2 separate regions of the Homo sapiens genome follow, and region 1 is linked to region 2. The links come from fine-mapping of genetic effects on gene expression. A gene starts in region 2. The other region holds a variant in brackets. All regions are shown on one strand. Distances are between the middles of the regions.

Evidence for each region. PIP is the estimated chance that this variant, and not a neighbour inherited with it, causes the effect.
Region 1: its variant is fine-mapped to the expression of DAPK1-IT1 in monocytes (BLUEPRINT, PIP 0.95).

Annotation. Positions count from the first base shown.
Region 1 is chr9:87,493,753-87,503,118 of GRCh38, forward strand. It overlaps DAPK1 (death associated protein kinase 1), which reads left to right and starts at 4,115. Exons shown (of 26, transcript NM_004938.4): 1 at 4,115-4,355; 2 at 5,218-5,387. The coding sequence starts at 5,326. RefSeq lists silencers at 3,764-3,823, 3,844-4,193, 4,564-4,753, 4,964-5,073 and enhancers at 4,464-5,221, 8,840-8,899. The variant C/T (reference allele first, on the strand shown) is at 5,415.
Region 2 is chr9:87,548,595-87,557,960 of GRCh38, forward strand. DAPK1-IT1 (DAPK1 intronic transcript 1) reads left to right here and starts at 4,860. Exons shown (of 2, transcript NR_146781.1): 1 at 4,860-4,996; 2 at 5,301-5,865. The region is part of intron 2 of DAPK1 (death associated protein kinase 1); the gene reads left to right. RefSeq lists an enhancer at 7,240-7,409.

The sequences.
Region 1 (9,366 bases), 55 kb before region 2:
GGCTGGAGTGCAGTGGCACCATCTCGGCTCACTGCAAGCTCCGCCTCCCGGGTTCACCCCATTCTCCTGCCTCAGCCTCCCAAGTAGCTGGGACTACAGGCACCTGCCACCACACCTGGCTAATTTTTTGTATTTTTAGTAGAAATGGGGTTTCACCGTGTTAGCTAGGATGCTCTTGATCTCCTGACCTCGTGATCTGCCCGCCTCGGCCTCCCAAAGTGGGAAACATTCTTAAAAATATTAGCCCTTGATAAAACCAAAGCCATGTTACAAAAAAGCAACCAAAAGGTGGAAATGAGATAATATGGTCCACTTTGAGCTGAGAACATCTTGCCAGAAAATGATTGTCTCAGACTTCAAATCTGACCTCCTACATAAACCTTCAGTGCAATCCTCCCTGTATTATCTCTTCTCTCATCAGCCAAAAGATGGAAAGGATAAACTGAGGAACTTACGCTGGAGGAGCATGGATTCATTAGATGGCAGAAACCTGGGTTTCTGAATGACTACTGTGGAGCTGATCTCTGCTTATGCCCTGCAAACCTTTGTGCTGAGAGCAAGTAACACATTTTTAATGTGTTAAACCTCTGGGATTTGTTGGGTCTTATAGCAATGGTTATTTTACCCTAATACGACTGTAAAATAATGTTCTAAAATCTACAGTCGGGTTTGTTTAAAATATTATCGCCATCATTATTATAATCCATAGTCCATATCATAATTATTTTTATAGAAGTCCTTCTCAACTGGCATCTCATAATTTGTGGCTTCTTATATTGTTGCCTTCTATGTGTGAGATGCCTCTCTGAGTCCTTTTTGCTAGGGACATGATAGAAAATAAAATATCCAACATTCTGGTGTATTTTATAATGTACAAAGTCCTGTTTCATGCATTATCTCTTTAGATTCTCCCAACAAACCCAAGGAATATGTAAGGGTCTATAATCATCTTCATTTCACAGGTGATGAAACTGAGACGTTTACATGTAAAGTGGAAATAACCACTTATTTATTTATTTATTTATTAAATAAAAACCCCGCTAATTTATTTAAAGATTAATTGAGAGAATTATTTCATCTGTCTGGAACCTGGTATGTGTTAAGAGAAAAGTTTTCTTAATTTTTCTTTTTAAGAAGATAATCTATTGCTACATAACAAACCACTCTGAAATAATGACTTAAAACATTAAAAGTCATTGATTTTGCTCACAGAACTTGAACTGGAAGATATAAACAACTGGGAGTGAGGGTGGGGCTGGACAGCTGGCTTCTCTGGGCATCTCTCGTTCTTTCTGTGGTTTTGTCACATGTCTCTACATGGCAGCCCTAGGGTAATCATGACAGCTGAAGGCTTTAGAGTGGGTGGAGGGGGAGAGGGAGGGAGGGAAAGAGAGAGAGAGAGAGAGAGAGAGAAAGAGAAGCAAGCAGGCAGAAGCTCTAATGCCTTATGACCTAACCTTGGAAATAAATTACACTGTGCCACTGCCACTACCTTTTCTTAGAAGCAAGCAGATAGGGTTGGTGAATATTTATTGAGAGGGGAATTAGACTCCACCTCTTGATTGGGGGAGTGTCAAAGAATTTGTGAATATGTTTTTAAATGACCACATTTCCCCTTTCTAAAATGCTTGTCTAAATTGGTGTACACAAAAAGCTCGGGGGTTAGTGACTCATCCAAGGTTATTAAGCTGTTAAATGGTTCCACCAATACTAGATCTAATTTTGTGACTCCAAATTTCATGCTCTTTTTCACTACTCCAGATAATCTCCGGTGAACATCATTGTCCATTAGGGTAGTTAAGACATTCTAGCTGCCAAATAGATTCAGTCCTTTTAATTGCCTCGGACAATATATTTTTTATTTTGCAGAAAATAAATATTACCCATATGGCAGTCATCCATAAACACCTTCCAAGTTTATCCCAAACATCTGTGTTTTAAATTTTTTCTCCCAACAGATGTATTCATTTGCATTTTCCCAGATGAATCACTCTTTTTTTGTTGTTGTTGTTATTTTTGACTGTATTTCTCACCTCTCAAGACCCTTTTGTATTATCAAGCCCACTGCTTAAGCTAATACCATCTCCCAATTTGGGGACTTCCCCTTGATTCCTGTGTGCCCTTCCTGTGGGTCATTAATGCAATGTTATTTAAGACTAGGATTTGGCTGGGCGCAGTGGCTCACGCCTGTAATCCCAGCACTGTGGGAGGCCGAGCCGGGAGGATCACCTGAGGTCAGGAGTTCAAGACCAGCCTGACCAACATGGTGAAACCACGTCTCTACTAAAAATACAAAATTAGCCGGGCATAGTCACATGCCTGTAATCCCAGCTACTGGGTAGCCTGAGGCAGGAGAATCGCTTGAACCCGGGAGGCGGAGGCGGAGTTTGCAGTGAGCCAAGATTTCACAACTGCACTCCAGTCTGGGCCACAAGAGCGAAAACCCGTCTCAAAAAAAAAAAAAAGACTAGGATTTGACATAAGGCCTGAGGGGTATTCTTTTGTTTTGTTTTGCCTTGTTTTCAAGAGGCCAAAATCTTCACAGTTGAAAATTTCTGTTGAACCACAGAGATTTGAACCAACTCAGTTTAGAAAGCCTGGGGATTTGAACAACGGTATGGATCGGAAATCTCTTCATCTGTCAGTTTTCATCATTCTAGGCAGTAAAATAGATTTCCCTTTAGGAGCTTTTCACCGTTTGGGGTTCTCCAGCAGTGGGATGTGGGGAATCAACCCTTCTTCGTCTCCACCCAAACATTAGGTGGGAGCAAGGGGTGGGAAGTAGAGAAAGTGGATAGAGGTCTCCAGTGGATATGGGATCTTTGTGTAGACCAGCACAGTCCTCAGAAATCTCATGCAAGCAACATAGGTACTGTTATATTTTCTAGTGGCCACCTTTTAAAAAGTAAACAGGTGAGGCCGGGCGCGGTGGCTCACGCCTGTAATCCCAGCACTTTGGGAGGCCCAGGCGGGCGGATCACGAGGTCAAGAGATGGAGACCATCCTGGTCGACACGGTGAAACCCCGTCTCTACTAAAAATACAAAAATTAGCTGGGCATGGTGACGCGCGACTGTAGTCCTAGCTACTGGGGAGGCCGAGGCAGGAGAATCACTTGAACCCTGGAGGTGGAGGTTGCCACGCTCCACTACACTCCAGCCTGGCGACAGAGTGAGACTCCGTCTCAAAAAAAAGAAAGTAAACAGGTGAAATTAATTTTAATAATATATTTTGTTTAACCCAACGTATCCAAAATACTATCATTTGAAAGTGTAATGAATATAAAAATATTCATGAGATATTTTTCATTCTCATATCCATACTGTCTTGGACTCTAATGTGTATTTTACACTTACAGCACAATTAATTTGGGACTAGCTACATTTCAGCTCAACAATAGCCAATAGCATATGGGATAGCGCAAATAAACTCTGCGTCTCTGTTGCTTCTTTGGGTCTCGGAGACCTCAACCCTTTCTTCAGATTGCAAACCTTCTTGCCTTCAAGCCTCGGCTCCAACACCAGTCCGGCAGAGGAACCCAGTCTAATGAGGTACGCTCCCTTCCTGCCATTCTCTATTCCATTAACCTGTTTCGTGGTAAACGTAGGACTGATCCTCCAAAATTACCTTATTAATTAGCTTACATATTTATTATCTATCTGTCCCACCAGAATGCAGGTTTCCGGAAGGCAGGGATTTAAAAAAATCTGTTTTGTTCTATGTGATTTTCCCATACCAAGCACCGTGCCCGGCACAAGCTGGGATCCCAGTACACATCTCGGGACGGAAGAACCGTGTTTCCCTAGAACCCAGTCAGAGGGCAGCTTAGCAATGTGTCACAGGTGGGGCGCCCGCGTTCCGGGCGGACGCACTGGCTCCCCGGCCGGCGTGGGTGTGGGGCGAGTGGGTGTGTGCGGGGTGTGCGCGGTAGAGCGCGCCAGCGAGCCCGGAGCGCGGAGCTGGGAGGAGCAGCGAGCGCCGCGCAGAACCCGCAGCGCCGGCCTGGCAGGGCAGCTCGGAGGTGGGTGGGCCGCGCCGCCAGCCCGCTTGCAGGGTCCCCATTGGCCGCCTGCCGGCCGCCCTCCGCCCAAAAGGCGGCAAGGAGCCGAGAGGCTGCTTCGGAGTGTGAGGAGGACAGCCGGACCGAGCCAACGCCGGGGACTTTGTTCCCTCCGCGGAGGGGACTCGGCAACTCGCAGCGGCAGGGTCTGGGGCCGGCGCCTGGGAGGGATCTGCGCCCCCCACTCACTCCCTAGCTGTGTTCCCGCCGCCGCCCCGGCTAGTCTCCGGCGCTGGCGCCTATGGTCGGCCTCCGACAGCGCTCCGGAGGGACCGGGGGAGCTCCCAGGCGCCCGGGTGAGTAGCCAGGCGCGGCTCCCCGGTCCCCCCGACCCCCGGCGCCAGCTTTTGCTTTCCCAGCCAGGGCGCGGTGGGGTTTGTCCGGGCAGTGCCTCGAGCAACTGGGAAGGCCAAGGCGGAGGGAAACTTGGCTTCGGGGAGAAGTGCGATCGCAGCCGGGAGGCTTCCCCAGCCCCGCGGGCCGGGTGAGAACAGGTGGCGCCGGCCCGACCAGGCGCTTTGTGTCGGGGCGCGAGGATCTGGAGCGAACTGCTGCGCCTCGGTGGGCCGCTCCCTTCCCTCCCTTGCTCCCCCGGGCGGCCGCACGCCGGGTCGGCCGGGTAACGGAGAGGGAGTCGCCAGGAATGTGGCTCTGGGGACTGCCTCGCTCGGGGAAGGGGAGAGGGTGGCCACGGTGTTAGGAGAGGCGCGGGAGCCGAGAGGTGGCGCGGGGGTGCCACCGTTGCCGCAGGCTGGAGAGAGATTGCTCCCAGTGAGGCGCGTACCGTCTGGGCGAGGGCTTCATTCTTCCGCGGCGTCCCTGGAGGTGGGAAAGCTGGGTGGGCATGTGTGCAGAGAAAGGGGAGGCGGGGAGGCCAGTCACTTCCGGAGCCGGTTCTGATCCCAACAGACCGCCCAGCGTTTGGGGACGCCGACCTCGGGGTGCCGTGGTGCCCGGCCCCACGCGCGCGCGGGGCTGAGGGGTCGGGGGCGTCCCTGGCCGCCCAGCTTTAACAAAGGGTGCTCCTCTCCACCCCGCGAGGAGGGGCAGCTCCGGAGACCCGGTCTTCAGCGAGCGGGGTCTTAGCGCCGGGGAGGTCTACTTCCTTTTGGGGTTGCCATTTTACTATTATTATTGCCTTTTTTTTTTCTTCAAAAGGACTGGAGACTGATGCATGAGGGGGCTACGGAGGCGCAGGAGCGGTGGTGATGGTCTGGGAAGCGGAGCTGAAGTGCCCTGGGCTTTGGTGAGGCGTGACAGTTTATCATGACCGTGTTCAGGCAGGAAAACGTGGATGATTACTACGACACCGGCGAGGAACTTGGCAGGTAAAGGGGGTACCAGAAGCGTACCCT[C/T]CTGGATTGTGGAAATGCATAACGATGGGGCCATTGGGTGGTAAACAAATGCAGTTTGAATCAGGCGTCTCCCTCGCCCTTTCTGGAGATGCGCAAATCATAGAGAAAAGAGTTACTAACCCAGCGGTAAACCGCCTGATCCAAGGGCCTGGGGGTGGAGGAGAGGCAGCAGTTCAGGGCTAGATTATGATGCACAGTATATTGATCCAGTCCCCTGGACAAAATCAGATTTAATTGTCCGTGCTAACTCTTGTCAGCCCTTGCCCTTCTGTGACAACAGGACAAACACTAAGATTATAATTGCAATTGGAGTTAGCTTTTATGTGTGATTTAAACGGAGGGTACAAACTAATTAATAGGTTTTAAAAATCTTAGTACTTTACCCTCTATCTAAATTTTCAGTGTAATTTGAGCAAGTATTGGTAGGTGGTAAATGGAGACTTGCCAGATGTTGACATTGGGCTTGGATTTTGAAACTTCTTCCAACCAGGAATTTAATTACCTGGTTGGTGTTGGTGGTTGCTTTGGTTTCATTTACAATGTTAAATTTTTAACAAATCAATGAGAGTCTAATATGGCTATCTGGATTCAGAGCATACCTCCATTGCTGTAGCAGCTGTGATTCTCAGTGTAAAATCTTTCAGTTTCTAGGTAAACAAAGAATAGTTTCTTTCGGGGCATCTAAGGGCTGATTGCTGTTTCCTTTGACTGTGTATTAGACAGAGTGTTTTGGGCTCTGGTCAACTTTAGTAGAAAACCTAGTTTTCATACATACATTTAAAACTGAATTTATGGAATTTGACTGTGGTGTATTTACATTGTGAGTGGAGTAGGCAAAAGGATCTTTAAACAAACAAAATATGTATTTACTTATATGTGCATTGAAATATGTATTTTCCCATATACATCTGATGTCCTGATACAAAGCTTCCTTTTTCTCCATGAAAAGGAAATTAAAAAACACCCACATCCTGGATTGCCTAATGAGAATTATGGAAACTAAGCTTAACTAAATTTTTTTAAAAATTCAAATGATAGTGTAGAATTTTTTTAAAAGTTACTGTAACAGAGTATTTCTCTAAATATTTAGTATCGACTGAAAACATAGATGGGGGCCTGTGCTTAGGAAGAGCTCTCTGTATATTGATGATCTGGTGAGTAAATAAGGAAAGCTCTTCAAACATCACATTTCATGGATATGTTTAAGATTAAAGTTTAAGAGTGTGTGGGTGAAATATTTGGTTTAACTGGAATTAAATAACTTTACTGTGGTTTTCAGCAAGATGAGTGGTATTTGGAGTTTTCCTTTGGGACTGGAAGAAAAAAGCAAAAAAATAAATTTTAATTTGATTTGCATAGTGTGGCCTGATCGTTTAAGTGTTGTTAGAAAGAGAGATGACTAAAATTAGTTGAGATTATTATATTATGGATTAAGTATATTGACCTTATTTTCATTATGATTTTTTGGTACCATTATGTGTTATGAGAAAGAAATAGAAAAAGAGGCCTCCCTGTGGTTGGCGAAGGGAGTTTTTGATCTTTATTTCGTGGGCGTGATGATGAGGGGAGGGAGGTGGCTTACTTATTTGTCACTAGCACTTTGATTTGCTCAGTGTACATTTTTGTGTATAACGTTCTCCCCACTGTGCAAGGCAAATTGACAAATTGTTTATTAAATAATTTGTGTGACCTAGGAATTTTAAAGAAATGCTCTGAAAAACTGGAAGTCTGAAGTTTTTAAAAATGAAATGTACAGACTCATCTATCTTGTATAACTGCTATTGTTTTTGCCAAAAAATGAGTGAATGATTGTTTTTTGGAAAATTTTTCAAGTCCTGATTTTATGTCTGCCTTGGATGTAGCCACTTCCTGAAAACAAGTCCTAATGTAAAATGGACATGTAGGAAGATGCTGCTTATATGACATCACGTGTCACTGAGGGAAGATTGGGAGTGGAGGCAGGAGTTTGGTGGCAGGAAAATGGAAATGGGCAGATATGTGGCACAAATGCAAGGTCATTCTAAGCAGTGAATTACTAGTAGACCAGTATCTAAGATTTAAGACTTTACTTGGCCAGGCGAGGTGGCTCACACCTGTAATCCCAGCACTTTTGGGAGGCTGAGGTAGGCAAATCACGAGGTCAGGAGTTCAAGACCAGCCTGGCTAACATAGTGAAACCCTGTCTCTACTAAAAATACAAAAAAAATTATCTAAGATTTAAGACTTTAATTGGCCAGGCGCAGTGGCGCGCGCCTGTAGTCCCAGCTATTTGGGAGGCTGAGGCATGAGAATCGCCTGAACCTGGGAGGCGGAGGTTGCAGTGAATGGAGATCGCGCCACTGCCCTCCAGCCTGGGTGATACAGCGAGACTCTGTCTCAAAAAAAAAAGAAAGAAAAAAAAGACTTTACTTATATATCTTTAGCAGTCATCTAAATAATAACGATTCACTTACCTTATAAATGTAGTGAGACAAAGTACATAGCCAGGAGGAAAGATGGGTTTTTGAAGAAGTAGAGTACAAGTATTATTGTTAATGTTATTTTACTTTTAGGAAAATTGAAAATGTTCGTATTTGTGTGTACTGCCTAAGACTTCTGTAAAAGCTCTCTGTCAACGGTCAGGAACTTTATAGAGTATTGCAACTATTGCAGCAGTCCATCTGCAGCAGTAATAGAGCAGATGGGCCACTGGACAGATACCCTGGTCCAAAACCTGGCTCTGCAACTTGCCAGTTTTCTTGAACAGGCCATTTACCCACTCTGACACTCAGGATTTTCCTCTATGAGAGGTTTAGTGCTTTTTTCATTGCTGTTGTAAAAATAATCTAACTTGTAAAAGTAGTTGATCAGCAGTAGAGAGTTAAACAAATATAGATATTATCTGTAGACTGGCTGAGACATCTGGGTGCCCCAGGCAAGCTAATAACTTGGCCGGCAAGTCAATATTCTTTAAGTTTCTGTTTACCAGCTTTGGGAGGGGATGCCTTATAGGAAAAGGGTCATGGGGAGAAGGGTTGCTGACAGCATTCAGCCTCCACTATGATTCTGAATAATGCAGCCCTGGCCTTGAGCTGGCACACCCTCCAAGCAGAAGCAAGTCCCTGCAGCAGATGCACTTGTTATCTTTAGAAGGGTGCTTGGTGGCCTTCAGTTTTGGCTCCTGGAGGCCCTTTAGGGTCTCACCCTCTGTCCCAGGAGGCGGAACAAAGAACTGCCTCCATGATGTGTAATAGTCTCTGGGAGGAGTTCTTATAAATCTGCTATTATACCGAGGTGTTTTAATGCCCCAGGATGCCCTAGCATCTCTTATCAGTTGGCACCTCGGGCAGCTGCAGGCTGACTTGCCCCATTGTCGGGCTCTAGTTACACCCTTGGCCGTCGTTCAGCCTAACCTGTGAGCCTCCTGGGCACCTCTCTGTGTACACTGCTTTCCTGAGGGACTGGCCTTCTTTCCTATTGCACCATCTGACCTTATATGATCTTAAGACCTAAGTCCTACTTCCTTAATGAATCCTTCCACAATGAGTTTCCCCTTTTAAAGTCAAGTGACTTCTCTGAGACTCTCTTTGTCCATGACCATAGACTGCCCAGTGACATGTTTATCCTGTTTCATGTTTATTAGTCTTGTATTACTCTTTGCAGCCAGCTTGTGAGTTTCTTTGGGGTGTGCCCTGTGGTTTGGAGTTGTTGTGGTCCTTTCTCCCCATGGTGTGCAGGGTTTCATAGACTTCCTGCAAATTGGTATCTATGATCAATATTGGGATTAATGCATGCCTCAATGAGCTAATGCAGTTTGGCAAGTGTAATTTTGAGACCAGAATGGGGATGTAAGATGCAAACGATGATGCTGATGCTGATACTGTTAGAGAGGCAGTGTGCAGTGTGGAAAAACCTGAGAATGCTCATTTGGAAAGTGGGGAGACACCTACCCTGGTAGAGTGTTGTTAGAATT
Region 2 (9,366 bases):
CAGAGTTTCTTCCCTCACTCAAAGAGGAAAGCATGGCACTGTTATTATTTTGTATCTTTTCTTTGGGATAACCATTTCTGAACCAGTGTTGCATGGATTTGGCTGCTGTCTTGGGAACACAGTACTGATGTTGCTCCTGGTGAGCGTGCACTGAAGATTTGCGCTGCACTGTACCTGAGGTTCTCAGCCGAGTCTTCCTGTGTATGTTTGAAGATCTGGTTCTGTTTTGTGGGGCTATGGACAAAATCCACCCTCCACAGTAGGTTGTAAAGAATGCATCCTTTTGGTAATTCACCACCCACTGAGTGGATTTCATTCCTTTTTTTTTTTTTTTTTTTTTTTTTTTGGCTTTTAACTTTTAAGTTCAGGGGTACATTTGCAGGATGTACAGGTTTGTTACATAGGTAAATGTGTGCCATGGTGGTTTGCTGCACAGATCATCCAATCACCTAGATATTAACCCAGTACCCATTAGCTATTCTTCCTGATGCTCTCCCTCCCTGCATCCCCCACAGGCTTCAGTGTGTGTTGTTTCCCTCCCTGTGTCCGTGTGTTCTCATCACTCAGCTCCCACTTACAAGTGAGAACATGCAGTGTTTGGTTTTCTGTTCCTGTGTTAGTTTGCTGAGGATAATGGCCTCTAGCTCCATCCATGTCCCTGCAGAGGACATGATCTCATTCCTTTTTATGGCTGCATAGTATTCCATGTTGTATATGTACCACATTTTCTTTATCCAATCTATCATTGATGGGCATTTGGGTTGATTCCATGTCTTTGCTATTGTGAATAGTGCTGCAGTGAACATACCCATACGTGTATCTTTATAATAGAACAATTTGTATGGGGGGGTTATATAGTAATGAGATTGCTGGGGATTTCATTCTAATGTAGTTTGTTGGTATGGGTTATCCTCACTATCTCTGAAATGACGAAAAAATTCTTAGTATCACCCAAACCTTATTCTGTTTTAATTAGGCATTTCACACAATTTAAATTAGTTTTACAAAGAATGTAGAATGAAGAACACTTCTCATCACAAAGAGTACACATCTCAGCACAAAATAATGTCCCCTCGCCCCTCCTTTTACATTGCTTTTATGACGTGCCTTCTAGAGCCTCAGCAATGCACTTGTACAACTCGTAGCAGAGCACCAAAAGAAACCATGATCAGTGTTAATGTTTTTCCACATTTTGTTATGAAAAATTTCAAATATATGGAAAAGTGGGGGAAAAAAGTATCATGAATACCCATCTGTCTGTTACCCAGATCCACAATGAACATTTTTTTTATCTTTCCCTCTGTCACGCCATCTTCATTACTTTATGCATTTCAAAGTAAGTTGCAGGTGTCTGTATACCTCATCCTTTTAAGGCTTCGTCATGCGTGTCATTTCCTAGAGCTCGGTGCTTGTTGCTGGTTTTTTCTGTGTCGGGTAAAGTTTATATGTAGTGAAATGCAGAAGTCCTAAGCACGTCCTTTGATGAGGTTTGACAATTGCATTCCCTGGGTAACATGAACCCCTGTCAGGATAATCACAAAACATTAACCGTCACCCTAGAGAGTTCTCTCTTGCCCCTTCTCAATCATTCCCACCCCCATCCCTCCAAAGGAAACCAGTGTTCTGATTTTTTCACCATAGGTTCGTTTAACCTGTTCAAGAACTTCATGTGGATGAGATCCTAGAATGTGTTTATTATTTTGTGCAAGACTTCTGTTGCCAGCCACATTAGTGTGCTAGGGCTGTTATAACAAAATACCACAGACTGTGTAGTTCAAACAAGAGAAATTTATTGCCTCACAGTTTGGGAAGCTGGAAGTCCAAGATCAAGGTGTCATTTAGAATGTGTTCCAGGCTTCTCTGCTAGCTCCTGGAAGTTCTTTGCCTTGTGGCAGCATAATTCCAGTCTGCACATGGCATTCTGCTTTTCTATGTCCAAATTTCCCCCTAAGGACCTATGGTCCTCCTAAGGACACCCATCATATTGAATTGGGAGTGCAACCTACTGCAGGATGAACCCTTCTTAACTAATGACATCTACAATGACCATATTTCCAAATAAAGCTACCTTACAAATAAGGTACTGGGGGTTAGGACATCAGTATACAAATTTGAGGGGGTCATAATTCAACCCATGACAGCAGCACCTGGGTTGTTTTATGTACCAGTGGTTTGCTGTTACTGCCGAGTAGTGCTCCATTCTAGAAATGGACTACAGCTAAGCCAAGCTGTACCAAGCCATGCTTGTTGATGGGTGCCGTTTTTGGCTGTCGTGAATAAAGCTGCTAGGAACATTTTTGCACAAGTGTTTCTGTGGACGTGTGCTTTTATTTTTCTTGGATACATACCCTGACCCCGGGGAGGGGGCTAACCTGGGGACACATGTGGAAGGATGGTCCTCTGAAGGCAGAAGGCCAAGCTGTTGGGTCCCCCCACCTTGGCCAGCAGCCGGGATGGCTCTTCCCCAGTGCTGCTTCAGTCTGGTGGAGACAGTAGCTACAAACCACAGATCCTGCTTCTTAAAACTGGGCAACATCATCACATCTATTAATTTGAATTTTTTTTTTTTTTGAGGCGGAGTCTCGCTCTGTCGCCCAGGCTGGAGTGCAGTGGTGCGATCTCGGCTCACTGCAACCTCTGCCTCCTGGGTTCAAGTGATTCTCCTGCCTCAGCCTCCTGAGTAGCTGGGATTACAGGCGCCCACCACCACGCCTGGCTAATTTTTGTATTTTTACTAGAGACGGGGTTTCACCATGTTGGCCAGGCTGGTCTCGAACTCCTGACCTTATGATCCACCCACCTTGGCCTCCCAAAGTGCTGGGATTACAGGCGTGAGTCACCGTGCGCAGCCTGTTAATTTAGATTTTAAGCCAATCTGTTGGTTTCCCTTTGAGGTTGGTGATGAAGTCCTTAAAGGCTGAGATCCGGTCACCTGGACCAGTAAGGAAGTGGGGAGTTGGGGAGAAGGTCCTGTTCCCAGGACAGTAGTGACAGTGGATGAAGGACAGGACAGCAGCTTTTGAGGATAAGGGCGAGAGAAGGGATCCAGGGACCCATTATGGGCCCATGGTGGGAGTTGGGGTCTGGCCCAGGGCCACATCCTCCTTCATCCTCAAGGGAAGGTGAGGGGCCCATGAACTCTCTCAGGGAAGTGCAGGTCCTGATACAGCAACATGGAGAAGCTGTAACCAAGCCGGAGAGAGTCACCGTAGAGCCCAGGAGGAGAGACCCGAAGATAAGCATCACCCTGTGCTGTCATCTCTGAGGGGCGGGCGCTGCTGATAGACACGTGAAAGTCTAGCCTGCAGCAGATGTGAGTCTCAGATGCCTCCGTGGGCAGCCGGAATCTAGATCAACAACTACACTCTAGAATAATCTCAGCTGCCAGTAAGCCAGAGGGGCTTGGAGGGTGAGGAGTCCCTGTGATAACCAAGATCAAGTTCTAAACCAGCCAGCAGGCCTCGCGAGGCTGGCTCACCTTTCAGGCTGCTGGTGTTGGAAACATGAGACTGTGCCTCTCAGCCCAGGCAGGGCCCTGCCTGGGGTCCCACAGCTTCCAGGAGCCAGTAGGGAGCCCAGAGCCTGGCAAGGCCAGCAAGTAGGGAGGGGATACTGCTTGGCAGGAAGTCCTCAGGAGGGAGTGTGAGGCTTGGTCTGCCTAGATCATTACAGCCCAGGGCTTTCTGTACCTAGGACTTCAGTCCCAACCCCGCTGACCCCATCTTAAAGAGGACAAGGGAGGGATATCTGCAGCTGGAAGGAGGGATATCTGCAGCTGGAAGGAGTGTGCCAGCTTGAACAGTGACGGGGCACCACTTTCTGGAAAATATGGAAGAACCTAATGTACATTAGAGCTGTGAAACTTGTGGCCCACACACTAATTTTCTCTAGCACCTGGGCAGACATAGGCAGTTGTGGCATCTCTTTTTATCAAGTACAGACAGAAAAAAAATCAATTAAAATAATTTTATTGTTGTATAATGCACGTGCTTTAAAATGTACCTCTTTTTTTTTGGAGACAAGGTCTTGCTCTGTCACCCAGGCTGGTGTGCAGTGGTACAATCATAGCTCACTGCAACCTCCAGCTTCTGGGCTTAGGTGATCCTCCTGCCTCAGCCTCCCAAGTAGCTAGGACTATAGACATGCCCCACTGTACCCCGTTAATTTTTTTTTTTTTTTAAGATTTCTAGTAGAGATGGGGTCTCTGCGTTGCTCAGGCTGTTCTAGAACTCCAGGCCTCAAGCGATTCTCCCACACAGCTTCCCGAAGTGTCAGGATTACAGGTGTGAGCCATTGAGCCTGGCTATATTTACCATTTGAACCATTTTTAAGTGCACAGTTCAGTGGCAGTAAGAACATTCACGTTGTGTTGCAGCCCTCACTAACGTTTATCTCCAGAACTTTTTCGTCATCCCAAGCTGAAACTGTGTATCCATTAAATACTAACTACATTTCCTTCTCCTCCTAGCCCCTGGCAATTACCTTTCTACTTTCTGTCTCTGAATTTAAATCTACTTTTGAGAAGACACATTGTTCTGGTCCTGATATTGTTGATATTTAAGTTCCAGCTGGCCAGCTAGGCAGTAAACCAAGCAAAATCTCACTCATCAGACCTGAGTATTTTTTTCCTTGACTTGTGTCTGTCATGTGGGGGGGGTTGGGTGATTGGAAATATTTGGTATCTACACAGCAGTCTTTCTGCCTTTGCCATCATCCTGTGCATATGCTTCTTGATAATTAATATGTGCATTCAGTTAACCATTCATGGGATCTTTTCTTTTATCCGATTCTCCGCTCCTTAAGGACATGGGCTGTGTCTTGTTTGTCCCTGTATCCCAAGCCCTGAGCACTATGTCTGGTGCTTAGGGTGCTCAATATTTATTTTCTTTTTCTTTTCTTTTCTTTTTTTTTTTTTTTTTGAGATGGAGTCTCGGTCTGTTGCCCAGGCGGGTGTGCAGTGGTGCGATCTCGGCTCACTGCAACCTCCACCTCCCAGGTTTAAGTGATTCTCCTGCCTCAGCCTCCCGAGTAGCTGGGATCACAGGTGTGTGCCACCATGCCCGGCTAATTTTTGTATTTTTAATAGAGACGGGGTTTTGCCCTGTTAGCCAGGCTGGTCTCGACCTCCTGACATCAAGTGATCCGCCCGCCTGGGCCTCCCAAAGTGCTGGGATTACAGGCGTGAGCCACCATGCCCGGCCTCAATATTTATTTTCAATATTCCACAGATGAGGGCAATAAGGAGAGGAAGCGGAAGAAAAAGGATGAGACATGTGGCTTGTGGGCAGAAAGGGAGGCAGGAGAACATTCCCAGTCTGCCTTTCACTGAGTTTTTACCTGTTCACTAGAACAACAAAAGGGAACCCGATCGGGAAACTCTGCTGTCAACTAAGCAAACTCTAAATTTAACATTTGGGGGACCCCCTTGGAGAGTAGTTGAGAGCTATGTGCTCCCCTTTTCAGAAAAATGCTCTCAAATACTCAGTGCATAAGCCCACAGCCTTAGCAGGTTCCCAGACCTTAGGTCAGCAATCCTGTTCTAAGGCATACATCACGAGCAGCATTTTGATTTTCATCTGGGGAACTTATAGTTCATAAAGACCTACTGATCCATTAAAATTTCCACTTGATTTTGCCATTAGTAATCTCTTAAACAAGTCCAAGGAAGCCAGAGGAAGTTATTTCTTGAATGCTTTTATACTAGTGCTTTCAAGAGTTCGTGTTGCTGACTCCAGTTTTTAAAATTATTATTCTCATCTTCTGCAATGCCTCGAGGCATGTTTTTAGCTGAATAGCAATAATTATGGGATTGTGCAATACTGGAAGAAGCAGTAAAAATAAAATGTAATACTAAAAAAAAAAAAAGTCTTTACTTCATCTAGGAAATTCAGTTTAAAGAATTTTTACCTCCGGACATAACAGTGACTATGCTGGAACTCTGTCTTTGACTCAAGCCAGAAGATGGATGGGACCACCCTTAGGAGCCTTCCACAGGAAGGCCCTCTCCACAGTAGGACTTAGGGCGCTCATGTAGATCCCTCGGCAGTAATGCGCTAGTTGCTCCTATAGTCAGGAGGCATCTAGGGAGATCGCTGATCTCCATGGCAACCTGGACCCAAATGAGCAAAGTGCCATCAGCTGGCCTCGGCCTGACTGCTCTGGCGGGAGGGAGGAAGCTGATGCTGTCTCCCACCCAGGCCGTGTAGCCATTTCCCCCACCCCCACCGGAGGTCTGAGAGTGTCAGGGCTTCTGCCCTTGGCTTCAGCCAGTTCTCCTGGAGGTCATTAAAGGGAAGCCCTTCTGGTGGCAAGTTCTCTGCCACAATCTACAGTGAGAATCTAATGATGGTATCAGTTGTAGAGGCCCCTTGATCTCTGGAGAGGGTTCTTAGTGCCAAGGAACTTTCTAGAACCATGGAGGAACCCTGCAGGGACCTCTGAAGAGTCCTGAGCAAAGAAGTGGGGAAAGCTGTGTGGGTGTGCACCAGGGTCTCATCACCCTGCCCTCAAGGGCAGCCTCAGTATTATGACTTAAGGACTTGGGGGTTTACATAACATCCCTTTTTGTCAGCAAAGGAAGTTCCTTATTTCTAAACCTCATGGTCCCAGAAAACCCAGTTCCTGATCTAGCTGTCCCGTTAGGGCATTTCCATAATACAGCACGTTCTTAAGCAGACATTAAGTCAGACAATTAGGTCCCAGCTAAGCCTTGTCTTGACCTCTTAAGCAACATATCTGCCCTCCCTTTTGCCTTCTCTCTTTTCCTTCTCTGTCACAGACACAAGGACTAGATGAGAATGACACCCTGGGGCTATCTGATATACTTCCTCAAGAAGTATTAGTAACACAAACAACAACAGAAAAAACAAAGTGAAATTTATTTATCATGAAGCACTTTATTTTATTTAGTTATTTTTTTTTTTTTTGAGATGGAGTTTCGCTCTTGTTACCCAGGCTGGAGTGCAATGGTGTGATCTCGGCTCACTGCAACCTCTGCCTCCCGGGTTCAAGCAATTTTCCTGCCTCAGCCTCCCGAGTAGCTGGGATTACAGGCATGCGCCACCACGCCCAGCTAATTTTGTATTTTTAGTAGAGACAGGGTTTCTCCATGTTGGTCAGGCTGGTCTCGAACTCCCGACCTCAGGTGATCTGCCTGCCTTGGCCTCCCAAAGTGCTGGGATTACAGGCGTAAGCCACTGCAGCCAGAAGCACTTTAAAGCTTATCGTTAAGAACAAATATGCAGTCATGCAAGAGCACACTGTTAACAAATTACCGGCTAACTAAAAGCTAGGCGAGTTCCATATCAATATGATTAAACAATTGCATGGGAAAATTATTATTTAGAGGAATGGAAGTAGTCACTAGTACGTGTTGTCAGTAGCTTCTGTTTTATTCCTAAAAAGACGAATGAGAAAATGAGGTATTATGAAGGAAGAAGCAAGAGTAAATGCCACCATGGTAATTACTGCCCGGGGCATATGAAGAACTGTTTTTTTGTATTCTAATCTCCGTCACCGAAACTCATCAGTGATGCAGGACCCAAAAATAGAAGGACATTTTGGGTGGACATGTAGTTAATAATGACTTATGCAGCCCAGCACCTGTGTGGGCTGGCATTGTTCTAAGTGCTTTTTCCTGTGTTACCTCATTTAATCTTCACAACAGCGCTGTGAGGTTGGTACAAGTATTATGTTGATTTTATGGAGGAGGAAACAGGTGCAGAGAGGCAAGGTACTTTGCCCAAGCTTCCTTTGTCAAAGCTCACAGAGCTGGGGAGGGTGCCCACGTGTGTGTACCTGTACCCACTGTGCATGCTGCCCGTCACGGGCAAAGGGGCTTCCTTTTGCTGTCTTTGAATCATGGATTTATTCAGTGTCATGGGAAGCCATGCATGGGTTAGTATTCTGGCCACATCAGTGAATGCTACAGCCTGGCCCCATCATGCTAATGTCAGGAGGAGTGCGGGGGATTGGCAGAGCATGGGGAGGATGGCGGTCTCCTGCTGAAACTCTGTGGAGTAGCCTCAGCTACCCTTTCACAGAGCAGGGTTTGGTCTCTGAAAGGTGAGGTCTTTCACTTGTGATCATGGTACAAGGCTGTGGTACTTCTCGCTCCAGGAGCTCGCTGGAGAACATATCGAGGCCTGTGTGGCTCCTCAGCCCATACCCTCAGGAGAAGGAATGCTCTCCTCAGGTTTGGAATTGCTTTTCTTGGTCCTTGTTTCTAGTAGGGAGTGAGAATAGACATGAGTTGTGCCTGCTGGGCAGAGCCTTTGCAGGCCAGGCCTCCTGGGCTGCCTTGGGCGTGTTCCTTGAAGAGCCAGTCCTGCAGTTGTGGGTGGGAGAGGAGCTTCTCTGAGATGTGTTATCAGGAACCTTGGCGGAGGTGGGCAGTTGACCTTCGGCTTTCCCCTTGGCCTCTAGGGATTCATATCTCATAAAGAACAGAAAAGAGGAAGGCAGCCTGGCCCTTCCCCTCACCCTTCCCTCTTGGCGGTGTTGCGGGAAGGGAGGAGCAACTCTTCCTCAACATCCTCGAAGCTCAGTGTCTGGCATTGTAAGGCCAGTGGTTTTCAAACCTCTGGGCTCAGAACCTTTGTTCAAAGCAAGTGTTACCTGGCAGCCACACATCCATCCAGGCAGCCCCATGAGGAATGCTCAGATCCATCTGAGAAGAGTCTGGAAACCCACATCTTCATTTCCCACCATGGCCCTGTCAGGGGAGACCCTTTGTCCTGTACCTTCCTGTCGTGTTCTTTCTACGTTTCACCCACTGCCTTCCTCGTCCTTCCAAATTAGATTATTAATCTCATGAAGAAAATACAGCTTTCTTCCTGTGATTCAAAACATCTTTTGTGAGCTCTAAAACCATGCCGATTAAGGAATTATGAATTTAAAATAATATTAAATGGTCAGTAGCTTTTATTGACAAATGATCTTGGGACAAAGCCATTAGATTTTTTTTCTATCTCTTACAGAACCCCCCTCCTGTTAAAACATTACTCATTGAGAAGTGATCCATTAAAAGAAAAATGTGTTGGATTTTAAAAAATACCTAATCCTTGGCAGGGCGCGGTAGCTTATGCTTATAATCACAGCACTTTGGGAGGCCAAGGTGGGTGGATCACTTGAGGTCAGGAGTTCGAGAACAGCCTGGCCAACATGGTGAAACCTCGTCTTTACTAAAATTACATAAATTAGCTCGGTGTGGTGGCATGCACCTGTAGTCCCAGCTACTTGAGAGGCTGAGGCTTGAGAATCACCTGAACCTGGGAGGCGGAGGTTGCAGTGAGCTGAGATGATGACATTGCACTCCAGCCTGGGTGACAGAGTGAGACTCCGTCTGAAGACAAACAAACAAAAAAC